2 linked regions of the Homo sapiens genome follow. The protein of the gene in region 1 purifies or fractionates together with the protein of each later gene. This does not show direct contact. Each region holds a gene or a part of one and is shown in the gene's direction. Other genes may lie near its edges.

What was found. The genes of interacting proteins can lie anywhere in the genome.
Region 2: the proteins of CCNI2 (region 1) and LARP1B purify together in Homo sapiens (affinity purification with mass spectrometry; 4 studies listed by BioGRID and IntAct, with this or other methods). This does not show direct contact.

The regions. Positions count from the first base shown.
Region 1 is NC_000005.10:132,742,563-132,750,425, forward strand, and holds the start of CCNI2 (cyclin-I2), read left to right. Parts: upstream 1-4,863; 5' UTR 4,864-4,933; coding exon 4,934-5,362; intron 5,363-5,781; coding exon of another isoform or gene 5,782-5,784; coding exon 5,785-5,913; intron 5,914-6,785; coding exon 6,786-6,860; intron 6,861-7,863.
Region 2 is NC_000004.12:128,120,288-128,127,319, forward strand, and holds part of LARP1B (la-related protein 1B), read left to right. Parts: intron 1-1,538; coding exon 1,539-1,901; coding exon of another isoform or gene 1,902-1,946; exon of another isoform or gene 1,947-2,066; intron 2,067-2,194; coding exon of another isoform or gene 2,195-2,227; exon of another isoform or gene 2,228-3,582; intron 3,583-4,339; coding exon of another isoform or gene 4,340-4,408; exon of another isoform or gene 4,409-5,201; intron 5,202-7,032.

The DNA.
Region 1 (7,863 bases):
CCCTGTCTCTACTAAAAATACAAAAATTAGCCGGGCATGGTGGCATGTGCCTGTAGTCCCAACTACTCGAGAGGCTGAGGCAGGAGAATCTCTTGAACCCAAGAGGTGGAGCTTTCAGTGAGCCGAGATGGCATCACTGCACTCCAGCCTGGACGACAGAACAAGACTCCGTCTCAAAAACAAAAAACAAACAAAAAAAAAATATGAATTTGGGAGGGACACAAACATTCCGTCCATAACACAGCCCTAGCAGACTTAATACAATTATTTAGCCCATTCACATTTAATGTTATTATTGATAATATTAGATTTAAGTCTCCCATTTTGCTTTTTGTTTTCCCTTCCTTCCTCCCTCCCTCTTTCCCTTCCACCCTTCCTTCCTTCCTTCCTTCCCTCCCTCCATCCCTCCTTTCTTCCTTCCTTCCTTCCCTCCCTCCCTCCCTCCATCCCTCCTTTCTTCCTTCCTTCCCTCCCTCCCTCCATCCCTCCTTTCTTCCTTCCTTTTTTGAGATGGGGCCTCACTCTGTTACCCAGGCTGGAGTGCAATGATACAAACAAGGCTCACTGCAGCCTCAACTTCCTGGGCTCAAGCCTCAAGCCATCCTCCTGCCTCAGCCTCCTAAGTAGCTCGGACCACAGGTGTGTGCCACCACACCCTGCTTTTTCTTTTTTTTGGTAGAGACGCGGTCTCTCTATGCTGCCCAGGCTGGTCTCAAACAGCTGGGCTCAAGCAGTCCTCCCTCCTCAGCCTCCCAAAGTGGTGGGATTGCAGGAGTGAGCCACCATGCCCAGCCTGCTTTTTGTTTTTTAATACGTCATATTGTCTTTCTGTTCCTCTGTTCCTCCTTCAATGGTTTTTCATTATGTGAATCTTTTATAGTTTAACATTTGAATTTCTTTAATTATTGGTTTACTATTTTTTAAAGTTATTTTCTTGGCAGGCCCAGTGGCTCATGCCTGTAATCCCAGCACTCTGGGAGACAGAGGCAGGTGAATCGCTTGACGTCAGGAGTTCGAGACCAGCCTTGCCAACATGGAAAAACCCCATTTCTACAAATAACAGAAAAATTAGCCAGACACAGTGGCGTACACCTGTAATCCCAGCTACTCAGGAGGCTGCGGCAGGAGAGTCGCTTGAACCCAGGAGGCGGAGGTTGCAGTGAGCCAAGATCGCACCATTGCACTCCAGCCTGGGCAACAGAGCAAGACTTCGTCTCAAAAAAAAAAAAAAAAAAAAAAAAGGCCGGGCACAGTGGATCATGCCTGTAATCCCAACACTTTGGGAGGCCAAAGTGGGCGGATCACAAGGTCAGGAGTCTGAGACGAGCTTGGCCAATATGGTGAAACCCCGTCTCTACTAAAAATACAAAATTAGCTGGGCATGGTGGTGGGCTCCTGTAGTCCCAGCTACTTGGGAGGCTGAGGCAGGAGAATCGCTTGAACCCGGGAGGCAGAGGTTGCAGTGAGCTGAGATCACGTCACTGCACTCCAGCCTGGGTGACAGAGTGAAACTGCGTCTCAAAAAAAAAAAAAAAAAAAAAAAAAAGCTCTAGGGCTTCCAATATAGATCTTATCAGAATCTATAATACTTCAGAGTTATAATAATTGAATTCCAGTGACATATATAAATGTAACTCCCGTATAGCTCTATTCCCTCCTCCTCTTTTTGTGCTATTATTGTTATATGGATTACATTTACATGTTATAAACCAAACAATACTTTGTTATAACTTTATGTTATAAAATTTTATGTATTTTAAATCTTCCAAAGTAGCCGAGAGAAGAAAACAGAGCCAAGTTTATATTTATAATTTGTAATATTAATCTTCTTATTATTTCTCGTTCTCTTCCTTGTTTCCTGTGGATTCAAGCTACCATCTGGTGTTATTAGCATTTTATATGATTCCATTTTCTCTCCTTTCTTAGTGCATATGAATTATACTTTTTAAAAACTTTTTTTGCTGGTTGCCCTAGAGTTGGCAATATACATTTATAACTAATTCAAGTCCACTTTCAAGTAACATTATACTGCTTTCCAGGTAATGCAGGTAACTTAAAACAAAGTATTCTTAATTCTTCCCTCTCATGGCTAGTATCATTATTGTCATTCATTCAACTTATCCATAACCTACAATCATCAAATACATTATTATTATTTTGAATAAATGATTATTAGATCAATTAGGAATAAGAAAAACAAAAGTTTTATTTTACTTTCACTTATTCCTTAAAGTTCTTTCTTTATGTCGAAATTTATGACCTATATCATTTTCCTTCTCTCTGAAAAATTTCTTTTAACATTTCTTGCAAAGCAGGTCTACTGGTGAGAAATACCTTCAATTTTGTTTGTAAAAGTATTTCTCTTTCACTTCTGAAGGATAATTTCACTGAATACAGAATTCTAGGATGGTGGGGGTTTTCTCTCAAAATTTTAAATATTTCACCCCACTCTCTTCTTGCTTGCATGATTTCCGAAGACAAGTCCAATGTGATTCTTATCCTTATCCCACCTTATCTTATTTCCACCTCATCCTACCCAGCTCCTGCTCCCAGCTTTGCTTGCTCTTTCTTTCTTTCTTTCTTTCTTTTTTCTTTTCTTTTCTTTTTTTTGAGATGGAGTCTCCCTCTGTCACCCAGGCTGGAGTGCAGTGGCATGATCTCAGTTTACTGCAACCTCCACCTCTTGGATTCAAGCGATTCTTGTGCCTCAGCCTCCTGAGTAGCGGGGACTACAGACATGTGCCACCACACCTGGCTAATTTTGTATTTTTAGTAGAGACAGGGTTTCACCATATTGGCCAGGCTGGTCTTGAACTCCTGACCTCAAGTGATCCGCCCACCTCAGCCTCCCAAAGTGCTGAGATTACAGGCCAGCTTCTTTTGAGATTTTTTTTTTTTAATCTTGATTTCCTGCAGGCTTTTTTCAACTTTTATTTTAGATTCTGGTATATTGTGCAATGCTGATATTTGGGGTATGAATGATCCTGTCACCCAGGTACTGAGCACAGTACCCCATAGTTATCCAACCCTTGTCCCCTCCTTCCCTCCCCGCTCTGGTAGCCTCCAGTGTCTACTGTTGCCATCTTTACGTCCATGTGTACTCAATGCTCGCTTAAAAGTGAGAGCATGTAGTATATAATTTTCTGTTCCTGTGTTCATTTGCTTGGAATAATAGCTTCCAACTTCATCCATGTTTGCTACAAAGGACATGATTTCATTCTTTTTAATGACTACATAGTATTCCATATTGTATATGTACCACATTTTCTTTATCCAGTCGATCACTGAAGGGCACCTAGGTTGACTCCATGTCTTTGCTACTGTGACTAGTACTGTGATGAACATGCAAATGTATGTGTCTTTATGGTAGAACAATTTATTTTCCTTTTGCGTATATACCCAGTAAAGGGACTGCTGGGTTGAATAGTACTGTTTTAAGTTGTTTGAGAAATCTCTAAACTGCTTTCAACAGTGACTGAACTAATTTACATTACCACCAGCAGTGTATAAGCATTCCCTTTTCCCTGCAGCCTCACCAGCGTCTGTTGGTTTTTGACTTTTTAATAGTAGCCATTCTGATTGGTGTGAGATGCATTACTCTGATGATTAGTGATGTGGAGCATTTTTTCATGTTTGTTGACCACTTGTATATCTCCCTTTGAGAAGTCTATTCATGTCTTTTTGCCTGTTTTTTGATGGGGTTGTTTTTTGCTTGTTTAATTAAATTCCTTACAGATTCTGGATATTAAGACCTTTGTCGAATGCTTACTTTGCTAATACTTTTCTCCCACTCTATAGGTTGTCTGCTGACTCTGTTGATAGTTTCTTTTGATTTTCTACGGTTTAAATAGGAATGTCTAGGTGTAGTTCTTGGCATTTATCTTGCTTAATGTTCTCAGAGCTTCCTAGAATTGTGGTTTGGTGTTTGGCATTAATTTGGAAATATTCATTCTCAGTCGTTATTGTTTCAAATATTTCTTCTGTTCCTCTCTTTCTTGTCCTTCTGGTATTCCCATATATTTTTAATATACATTTAATGTAATGAATTTTTTAAACAAAATATAACTTAGGAGCCAGGTGTGGTGGTGTGCACCTGTAAGTCTCAGCTACTTGAGAAGCTGAGGTTGAGGGTAGCTTGAGTCCAGGAGTTTGAGGTTGTAGTGTGCTGCGATCACACCTGAGAATAGCCACTGCACTCCAGCTTGGGCAACATAGCAAGATCCACCCCTAAAATTTATGTATGTATGTGTATACATATATATGATTTGTATGATTTTCCTTATTATACGTTTATAGCTATATATGTATGTATAGATACATAAACATATATGTATATGAATGAATCACCTTGTGAGGGAGGTATTATCACTTTTTTTTTCGGAGAAGAGGTAGCCAAGGCTCTGAGAGGTCACGACACATGCATGAGATCACACAGCGCGTCTGGAATTCCATTTCAAGCCTGTCTGAGGAGGGCGCTCTCGCTGCTTCTTTACCTGGTCTTGTGTCCCCAAGTGTGTAATGTGAGGTAAGACCCAGGGTCTGTGTCCGGGAGTCCTGGCCCAAGGCGGGCGCAGTCTCCAGCCGCCCCACCCCTGGCTGGGGGCTCTGCTCAGGGAGCACGGCCGGCAGGGGGGAGGAGGCGTGCGCTAGGCAGCAGCGGGGATGGAGGGAAGGGAGGGGGTCCGCCACCCGCCTGTGCGCGCCCAGTCCTGCCGCATCCTGGGTGCGCGCCGCCCACCCGCGGGGCGAGTGCCCAGGAGGCGAGGCGCGGCCCGGTGCGCCAGAGGTAGCTCCACCGCGAGCGTTGTGGGTGGGGCCCGCCGAGCCCGCCTCCCCACCTCCCCCGGCGGCGCCCCAGGCTGCAGTGTTCCGGGAGCTGGGTTATAAAATGCCGGGTTAAGCGGCAACTCAGACTCAGGATCCCGCTCACGACATGGCCTCGGGCGCTCAGCTCCCGCCGCAGCCGTCGAGCTCAGAGGTCAGCGCCGTCCAGAGCCCAGGCGGGCGTCCCGGCGCCGGTCTGGAGGAAACAGCCCTGGGCGTTCCTCTCCCGCCGTCTCCGGGGGAGGCCCCTCTGCCCCGAAGCAACCGGAGCAGGTGCCCTGGGACCCGCCAGCCCGGAGCGGCCTCCCTCCACGCGGCGTCCGCAGCAGTCCCCGTGCGGCCCCGGCGCGGTACGGCGCCAGCCGGGAAAACCGCAGACGCGGTCCCCGCCGCCGCCCCAGAGCAAGCTCCGCGGCCGGCTCCACAGTCCCGCAAGCCGCGCAACCTGGAAGGCGACCTGGACGAGCGCCGGCTGCTCTGCCACTTGCAGCTGGCCCAGGACCGCGAGGCGCGCCTGTGGCGGGGCGGCAAACCCCAGGTACCCGTCGCTGCCGCGTGGCCCTCCTCGCGCGTGCACGGCAGGCGGATGTGGCCTCCACCTGCACCCGCGCTCGGGTGTTCTGAAACTGGAGGCCGGGCCCTTCCCCAGGTGTGGCCCCTCACGAGAGGCACGAGGCTGGATCCACCAGCTTCTCTCTAGGAGGGCGTCTTGCTAGCAGGGCCTTCGGAAGAGGGCCTGTTTGAATCAAGGAACTCAGCCTACGACGAAAAGTGGGCGCGAGGGGTGGGGGTGATGGGTGAGCCGCTGCGCCGGGGGGCGCTTACTCCCAGCGGGCATGCAGAGGAAGGGACTTCTCACTGCCCCACCCCCCGCACCTTAAGCAGGAGGCTCCTGCTGCTGGGGGACCAGGAGTGGCCGCTAGCGACCTTCCTCGCCCCACCTGCTCTTCTTCCTAGCAGGATGAAATCTGCGACGCCTTCGAGGAAGTCGTGCTGTGGCTCCTGCGGCTTCAGAACACCTTTTACTTCTCCCAGTCCACTTTTAACCTGGCCCTCACCATCTTTGGCCGCCTCCTGATTTCAGTGAAGGTAGGGAGGCCTCTGAGGGACGGTGGCAGATGGTGAGAGAAGAAACTAACCTTTGCTCCCCATTCCTGCTTGAGAGGTGAGGGTTTCCAGATGCTCAAAACCAAGGTGTATAAACTAACTTGCTCCGAGTGGAAGAGCTGGTGTTGGAACCTCTCCACATCCTACACTGGCTGTCTCAGGGTCATGTAGTCATCAGGATTGGACTTGGGGAGCGTGAGAGGACCTAGCTGGGAAAGGGCTTCCTGTGTAATGAGGTAGGATGTGCTTGTCTCGACCTGTCGAGGGCAGCTTGAGGCTAGGATGAGACTGGGTTCCCTGAGAAGGTGCCATATTTCCCACCTCCAGTCAGTCCCGAAATGAAGGAATACTGCCCAGTCATCTGCAGTTCTGAAATCAGGAGCATCTTCGTTGGTCAGATCTAAAAACGGCACTAACATTCTGTCTTGTGGAGAAATTGAGCCTTTTAAAAATGGGAAAAAAAAGCTTATTAAAACAAACGGCTGGGCGCAATGGCTCACGCCTGTAATCCCAGCAATTTGGGAGGCCAAGGGGTGTGGATCACTTGAGGTCAGGAGTTGGAGACCATCCTGGCCAGCATGGTGAAACCCTGTCTCTACTAAAAATACAAAAATTAGCCAGGTGTGGTGGCCCGCCCCTATAGTCCTAGCTACTCAGGAGGCTGTGACAGGAGAATCGCTCAAAATCAGGAGGTGGAGGTTGCAGTGAGCCAAGATCATGCCACTGCACTCCAGCCTGGGCAACAGAGTGAGACTCCATGTCAAAAAAGTGTATAAAAGAAAACAAACACAGATGCTTTTCAGTTTGTTTCTGGCATTCATATTCTGCTCAAATGTGTTTGTTCCATACTGCAGGTAAAAGAGAAATACCTGCATTGCGCCACAATTACTTCCTTGAGGCTCGCTGCAAAAGTTAATGAAGAAGAGGAGGTATGCATCCTTGGAAGTCCACACTGGGCTGCACTTGAGGTATAGGGGTGTAACATTGGAGGACTCCAGTTTCCTGATAGGTCTGTGCCCTTAGGTATGGTGGATGTTTTGAAAAAGTCACCAACTTGCCGGCATCTCTGCTATCCCTTCCATCGGCTTGTCAGGCTTTGAGACCCCACAAATGAACAAGTAGAGCAGCTGAACTGTCCTGGCCCACCAAACCTAGAGACCTGAACTCTTGACAGATACATCTGGCCTCACTGGTTGATGACAGATGCTACCTCTCTCTAAACAGGGGCATCTGCTGTTGAGCAAGGAAAAAGGCCTCCCAAACCATGTGACTTAACATCCACCCCAAGCAATTATGTCTAAGAAAGCTGCTTGAGACTTGAGGACTTGGCTGTGTCAATGAAGCTGGTCCTTGGGAACTCTGGGACCCCTGAGAGGGACAGGAGGGCCATGTGCTGGGGGTAAAGTACAAGGGGCCCATGAGCATTTCAGGCATGGCTGGATGGCTGAATTTCACTGTGGCATCTGTTCAGGAGGAGATCATCTCCTAATACCCTTTCCAAGCTTTCCTACCTCCCTCCAACTTCTCCCAGTTTGGGGATGGTGAAATCACTGCCATTGCCACGGGGGTCACCCTTAGCTGATCTCTGGGTCTGAGGAGGCAGGGAAGAAGTTGTGTGTCCAGTTCCAAACCTTCAATAAAAATGTTTTAAACTCCTGTTTATTAGAATAGAATTAATGCCCAAGTTGCTTTTGTCCAACTAAAAATCAAGTGACCCTTTTTCTGGAGGTTATAGTAATACTTCTGTTTATCTAAAAACATAGGATCAAGCCTTTAATGTACTTGGTACTCAAATGTTTACTCATAGACAAGCCTCATTAGTCCCTCTGTGGGAAAAGCCATAGTTTTTCCAGAACTGAACCACCTTCAATCAAGGTTGAAGGAAATGTGTTTGCAGTTGCGATGCTAAAAAACCCATAGGAGGTTTTATCA
Region 2 (7,032 bases), on another chromosome or scaffold:
TTAGCATGAACTGAAGGGTAAAATAGGCCAGAGGACGAAAAATGAATGTAACACCAAGTAGAAACTACTTCCTTCTGTTGGGAGTTTTAAACTAGTTTACATGTTATAAGATCTAGGATCTAAAAGCTTAGACTTTTAATGTAAACCAACAACTGTTTTAAGTTCTTTTTTTTTTTTTTGAGATGGGGTCTCGCTCTGTCACCCAGGCTGGAGTACAGTGGCACAATCTCAGCTCACTGCAGCCTCCGCCTCCAGGGTTCAAGCCTCCGCCTCCAGGGTTCAAGCGATTCTCCTGTCTCAGCCTCCCGAGTAGCTAGGACTACAGGTGTGTGCCACTATACCTGGGTAATTTTTGCATTTTTAGTAGAGATGGGGTCTCACCATGTTGGCCAGGCAGGTCTTGAACTCCTGGCCTCAGGTGATCTGCCCATCTTGGCCTCCCAAAGTGTTGGGATTACAGATGTGAGCCACTGCACCTGGCCTAGCTGTTTTAAGTTCTATAGAAGGGGTAGACAATTTTTTTTTTTTTTTTTTTTTTCTTCAGACAGAGTCTCGCTCTGTCTCCCAGGCTGGAGTCCAGTGGCGTGATCTCGGCTCACTGCAACCTCTGGCTCCCAGGTTCAAGCAATTCTCCTGCCTCAGCCTCCCGAGTAGCTGGGACTACAGGTGCGTGCCACCACGCCTGGCTAATTTTTGTATTTTTAGTAGAGACGGGGTTTCACCATGTTGGCCAGGCTGGTCTTGAACTCCTGACCTTGTGATCCACCCGCCTCAGCGTCCCAAAGTGCTGGGATTATAGGTGTGAGCCACTGCACCTGGCCTGAGGGGTAGACATTTTAACATTTGCTGAATATTAGCATGAATTTGACATGAAAACTGGGCCATGTAGAATGGGGATGAGGATAGAGTAGAGGGATTAGCTCAGAAACTATGTTATTATCATTGTGAGGTAAAAAGGTTCGGAATAGGGAAGACCATTGACTCTGAAAATCAGAAGACCTTGATTCTATCTATCTGTCTATCTATCTATCTATCTATTTATTTTTTGAGACAGAGTTTCGCTCTTGTCGCCCAGGCTCTAGCGCAATGGCGCGATCTTGGCTCACTGCAACCTCCCTGCCTCCCAGGTTCAAACGATTCTCCTGCCTCAGCCTCCCGAGTAGCTGGGAATACAGCAATCCACAACCAGATAATTGGTTCTGTTTATAATTATGAAATCATAGGCAAATACTTTCATATCTCTAGGCCTTTGTTTTAATCAGTAAAATGAATCAGTGCAATGTAATGGATGATTAAGACTATTCCAACTCTAAAAGAGTCTTTAATGTAATCCTTTCTTTATTCAACTTTGTGTTTTTCTTTAGTCTTAAATTTACTGGGCCAAAATAATACTCACTTGATTTTCTTTTACAGTTTGGCTGTTAAACTAGCAATTGAGCATAAAAGCTTGATATTACTTACTTGTAACACTGTTTTATGACATTTAATTTAAAAATGATAGAAAGTTTTTTATATAAATTACCAATTTCTTCCTTCAGGAATCAGTGTCTGTCCCTGAAGGGTCATTAAATCAGCTATGTTCTTCAGAAGAACCAGAACAAGAAGAACTTGATTTTTTGTTTGATGAAGAGATTGAACAAATAGGACGAAAAAACACATTTACTGATTGGTCTGATAATGATTCAGATTATGAAATTGATGACCAAGACTTAAACAAGATTTTGATTGTAACTCAGACACCACCTTATGTGAAAAAACATCCTGGAGGAGATCGAACAGGCACCCACATGTCTCGGGCAAAAATCACATCTGAACTTGCTAAAGTTATCAATGATGGCTTATACTATTATGAACAGGATCTATGGATGGAAGAAGATGAAAACAAACACACAGCCATAAAGGTAATTGTTTCTGGCCAACATCTTTCTACTGATGCTTTGTTTTGATTGTATGTTGCTGTTTATATTTTCTCAAACTTGAGGCTCTATTTTATGAAATGTTGAATATAAATACATTGTATTTAACTTGAAAAATTCCTGGAAATATACCTGATAATTACCACCTGAGGAATCGTTTTATTTTATGAAAGTAACAGCGTGATGAATACTGTAATTACAAAAGAAAATTAGTACTCACTGACTTATACCCTTGTTTTTTTTTTTTTTTGTTTTGTTTTTTTTTGTTTTTGTTTTAGGTGACAATACTGAGAACGCCCTTTCTCGTATGAAAGAATAAAAACAAGTTACTGTGGACAGGCTTAATTTATATGCTCATTGCTTACCTGGCTCTCACCGCAGCTGTATGAGCCAGTGGCTTTAGAGAGCACTCTTCTTGCCTCTTTCTGTTTTCCCCACTTAGTCTATGGTGCATGATCTAAGGTAGTGGAAATGGTTGTGGACAAACTATAAATGACTAAACTGGATGATTATCTCTCTTGGTCTAGTCATTACTGTGGTGCTAGGGTTACTTTTTACAATCTTGTTCTAATTTTTTTTAACTTCTTGCATTTCATCCCAGATCCTGGTTCCTATCCTAGTTATTAAGGTAAAATAGAGAACCAGAATAGTTTATCAGGTATCTGCATTCCTTCAATATGAATTATAATGGTACAGATATGGGGATAAAAGGAATCTTTTTCTGCTATTAAGTTTATCAGAAAAGCCCCAATAGTTAAATATTTGTTTTCAGTAGAGGGTATAATAAGGGAAAATTATATAACATTATATGCCAAATAGGAAACTGATCTTGGTTGGAAATAAAGTTGTAGGAAGAAAAGCTAGCCAATTAGTGGCTGAGTAGAGGGGACTGCCTGTCGGTGGGGCTTCATATCATCAACAAGAAGTGTGCTAGCCTTCTTGGCTCCTCATTTCTTTTCTTCCTGGAATCCCCAGTACTGCTTTTAGCCTTCTGTAACCACTGCCTTCTTGGAGGACCTGCCTCAGGCTATGATAGCTTGTTACGTGACTTAGAGCCTTAGCAGTTCTCTGCCTGTCCTACTGCTGTGGGAAAGGAAGTGTGTTTTTATAATGCTTCTCAGTTGAAAGTCTTTCCTAGTGTAAGCATTGCTATTTTATTTGTAATACTTAGGTTCGGTAAGTAATACCTATCTTAAATCCTTTTAGAACAGAGATACTAGTACATTCTACTAATAATCAGTTAAAATTATCCTTCCCCCATTCTCTATCCCTTTACCCAGCTTTGTTTTTCACCATAGCATATATCATTATCTATAATTCTATATATTTTACTTACTTTTATTCTCTTGGAGAAAAAACTATGGATGTAATACCAATGACAATAGGATTTTTTTCTATTTGTTCATTACTATTGTATTTCTAGTGTTAGAATAGTTTCTGGCACAAAGAAATGTTCAATTCATGTTTGTGGGTAAATAAATTATGGAGTAAACATTATGCATTAACCAAAGGAACCCAACCATTGTGTATAATATTTGTTCTGTGGGAAATGTTTTCAGTCTGCCAAGTAACAAATTTGTAAGCCAACTTGAGAAACATCCTATTTGTAGGTGATTATTTCCTTAAATTATAGACAATAATTAAAAGCCATGTATTGAGTTCTTGAGGCATGTGCTGATCTTATTCATTAAATATTAACGGAAAGTAATCTTGGCTTATATAACTTTAACCATTATAATTGCAGATATGTCTTACTTTGACCTGATTCTTATGTACATTCCCATCATTTAACTCATCCCCTTTGGTTCTGATTCTGTCTTCTACATGTAGTATCTCATTAGACTTGTACTTTTCCTGTGGGTCTGCTTAAAGGGAGAGAAATCAGTCATTTAACATATACTCATTGAGTGCTTACTATGTGCCAGACACTGCTTAGAAACTGGGCACAGAGTGAGAAGGTAACAAATAGGGTTTCTACATGCCTAGAACCTACAGCTAACTGGGGGAACAGACTTAAAAATAAACCCACAATAAGTACTTAATCACAAATTACAATAAATACTCTAAAAGAAAAAAACAGGATGCTATTTCATTGAGTAGTCAGGGAAGGCCTCTGAGAAAGTCAGTAATAGTGAAATCTGAAGTGGAAGTAGGACATAACCAAGCAAAGAGTAGGGAAACAGTATTCCAGGAAAAGGGAACAGTAAATGTCAAGGATCTGGCAGAAAAGATTTTGGTGTATTTGAGGAACTGGAAAAAAGGTCAGTTTGCCTACGGTATTATATAAAATGTTAATTATAGATGAATAGGCAGGAGTCATCATTTATGCGCCATGTTAAATAATGTGGAGTTTATCTAAAGTTCAAATCCAGTACCTTAGGTTTTGCAAAGGCAGTGTGACATCTAATTTTTATTTTTAATAGATCACTCTGGTTGTTTTGGCACAGAATGGATTGTACAGGGACAAGAGTGGGCAGAAGAAATCCAGTTAACAGGCTGTCCATATAGAAGATGAATTGGTCGGCCAAGACAAACAGGTGGCAGAGGAAATATAGAAGTGAGAAGACCTGTCTCATCTGAGCCTTGAGGAATGATTATATAGGAGTTGTATAGGAAAGTGTGTTGTTGTGGAAGTCAAAAGCTGGCTCTAAGAGAAGAAAATAATCAGGTGTGTCAGCAACTTTACAGGTTGAATTAGATAGGAATGAAAAGTATGCCAAATTGATAGGGCAGTTTAGTACTCATTTTTGACCTCTGCAAAAAGAGTTTTGGTGGATCCAGAAGCTATGTTGAACTGGACCAAAGAGTGAGTAAAGGCTTTATTCTGTTTTTGGCATATATTTACTGCTGAAGACTACTAAAATGATAGGCTTATAGGTAAGAAAATATCTGCTTAAAATCTTTGAAGATATGCTAGGTAAGTTATTATCAGGATAAAACTATACAGAAGTGAAGTACTGAAACTTAGTTTTACCCTTAGGACCCTTTGTAGAAGCTACCCAAAACGGGTAAAAACCATAAACTCAGGGACCATTCAAAACTGTGGATTCCCATAGGATTCCTTTTCCCATTTAATTGGTACCCAAAAGTGCACCAAGATCTCACAGATCACTACTAAATAACTTACTCGTGTAACCAAATACCACCTGTTCCCCAAAAATCTATGGGAGAAAAAAGATACCCCAAAAGAATACACTTACAGTGGAAGAACTAAACTTGCTTCCTACCTGCTCCCCAAGGGACTCTGTAAAGAATATTTTTCTGGCTGGCGCAGTGGCTCACGCCTGTAATCCCAGCACTTCGGGAGGCCGATGTGGGTGGATCACGAGGTCAAGAGATTGAGACCATCTGGCCAACATGATGAAACCCCATCTCTACTAAAAATACAAAAATTAGCTGGACATGGTGGCGCGTGCCTGTAGTCCCAGCTACTCGGGAGGCTGAAGGCAGGAGAATCACTTGAACCCGGGAGGTGGAGGTTGCAGTGAGTGGAGATCACGTCAATGCATTCCAGCCTTGTGACAGAACAAGACTCTAACTCAAAAAACAAAAAACAAAAACAAAAACAAAACAGAATGTTTTTCTGGTTGTGCTGAGCAGAATAGAGAGGAAAAAATTGGGCTAGAAGTTGTATTCATGCAACCCAAGTTCATACTCTGGGTGACTAAAGGAAGCACTAGTTGTAAATTTGATGTGATTGTGGTCTCTTAGTTTCCCAGACACCTAGCATATGAAAATAAAGATTTTTTGTGTATGAAAATATTCACCTTTATCTTAGACCTCCTTTATTCACATTATATTGCAAGGAAAGTTAGCAGCACATAAAGTGAATAATCTAACAAGAAAGTGAGATCTCGCATGTGAGAATGAGCAAAAGTAACAGGCAGCAGAAACATACCTTAAAATAATCTTTTTTTTTTTTTTTTTTTTTTTTTTGAGATGGAGTCTCTCTCCGTCACCCAGGCTGGAGTGCAGTGGCACCATCTCAGCTCACTGCAACCTCCGCCTCCCAGGTTCAAGTGATTCTCCTGCCTCAGCCTCCAAAGTAGCTGGGATTACAGGCGTGTGCCATCACACCTGGCTAATTTTTTATGTTTTTTGTAGAGATGGGGTTTCACCACGTTGGCCAGGCTGGTCTCGAACTCCTGACCTCAAGTGATCTGCTTACCTCGGCTTCCGAAAGTGCTGGGATTACAGGCGTGAGCCACCATGCCTGGCCCCTTAAAATAATTTAGATAGTCAGATTATTAAACAAAATATGCAGTAGCTAGGCTTACTGTGTTTAAGGAAATAAAAATATGTGTAGAGAAGAAGAAATCCTAAAGAATAACGATAGAACTGGAAGTAAAAACAATTATGATTAAAATTAAGAACCAAATCAATTGAAGGGATTAGCAACAGATTAGACAGAATTAGAGAATTAGTCAATTGGAAGACTGTTCCCAAGAATTTATTCAGAAATTTCCACAGAGTAGCAAAGAAATAGAATATATGAAAAGAGGATACAGAATGATTTTCTACAGTCTTTGCTATTGGTTGGTAAGTTTTAATCAAGTTTTGTAATTTAACATCTAGTAGATTTTATTATAAAGCTTTTTATTTGTTTTTGTTTTTTTTTTAAAAAAAGGTAAGCAAGAAACTTGGAATATAGGATAACGGAGAAGGTCTAAAATATACATTTAGTCAGAGTTCCAGAATGAAAGGGTAGAGAGAATGGGGCCAAGTCATTATTATAAGAGGCAATTAGGACCTCTACAGAACTGAGGAGAGGTGTCAGAGTTTAGCCAGAAAAAAAAGAGATTACTTTCAAGAAAGAAGAATCATTAGACAGCTGATAGCTAGTTTCCCAACAGTGACAACCAATAGACATTGGAATGATAGCTTTAATTTGCCAAGGGAAAATAACTATCAACTGATAATTGTAGGCCTTGCAAAAATATCTTTCAGTAAGAGTGTAGAATATGAGAAATGGCCACCAGCAGAGTCTCATGAAAGAAAGTCCCAAAGGGTAGAATAAAAGTGATTTTACCTATCAGAGACACAGAAAGGACTGCAGAGCAAAACAAGTAATAAATACATGAATAAACCTAAGTGAATATTAACTGTATAAAGCAAT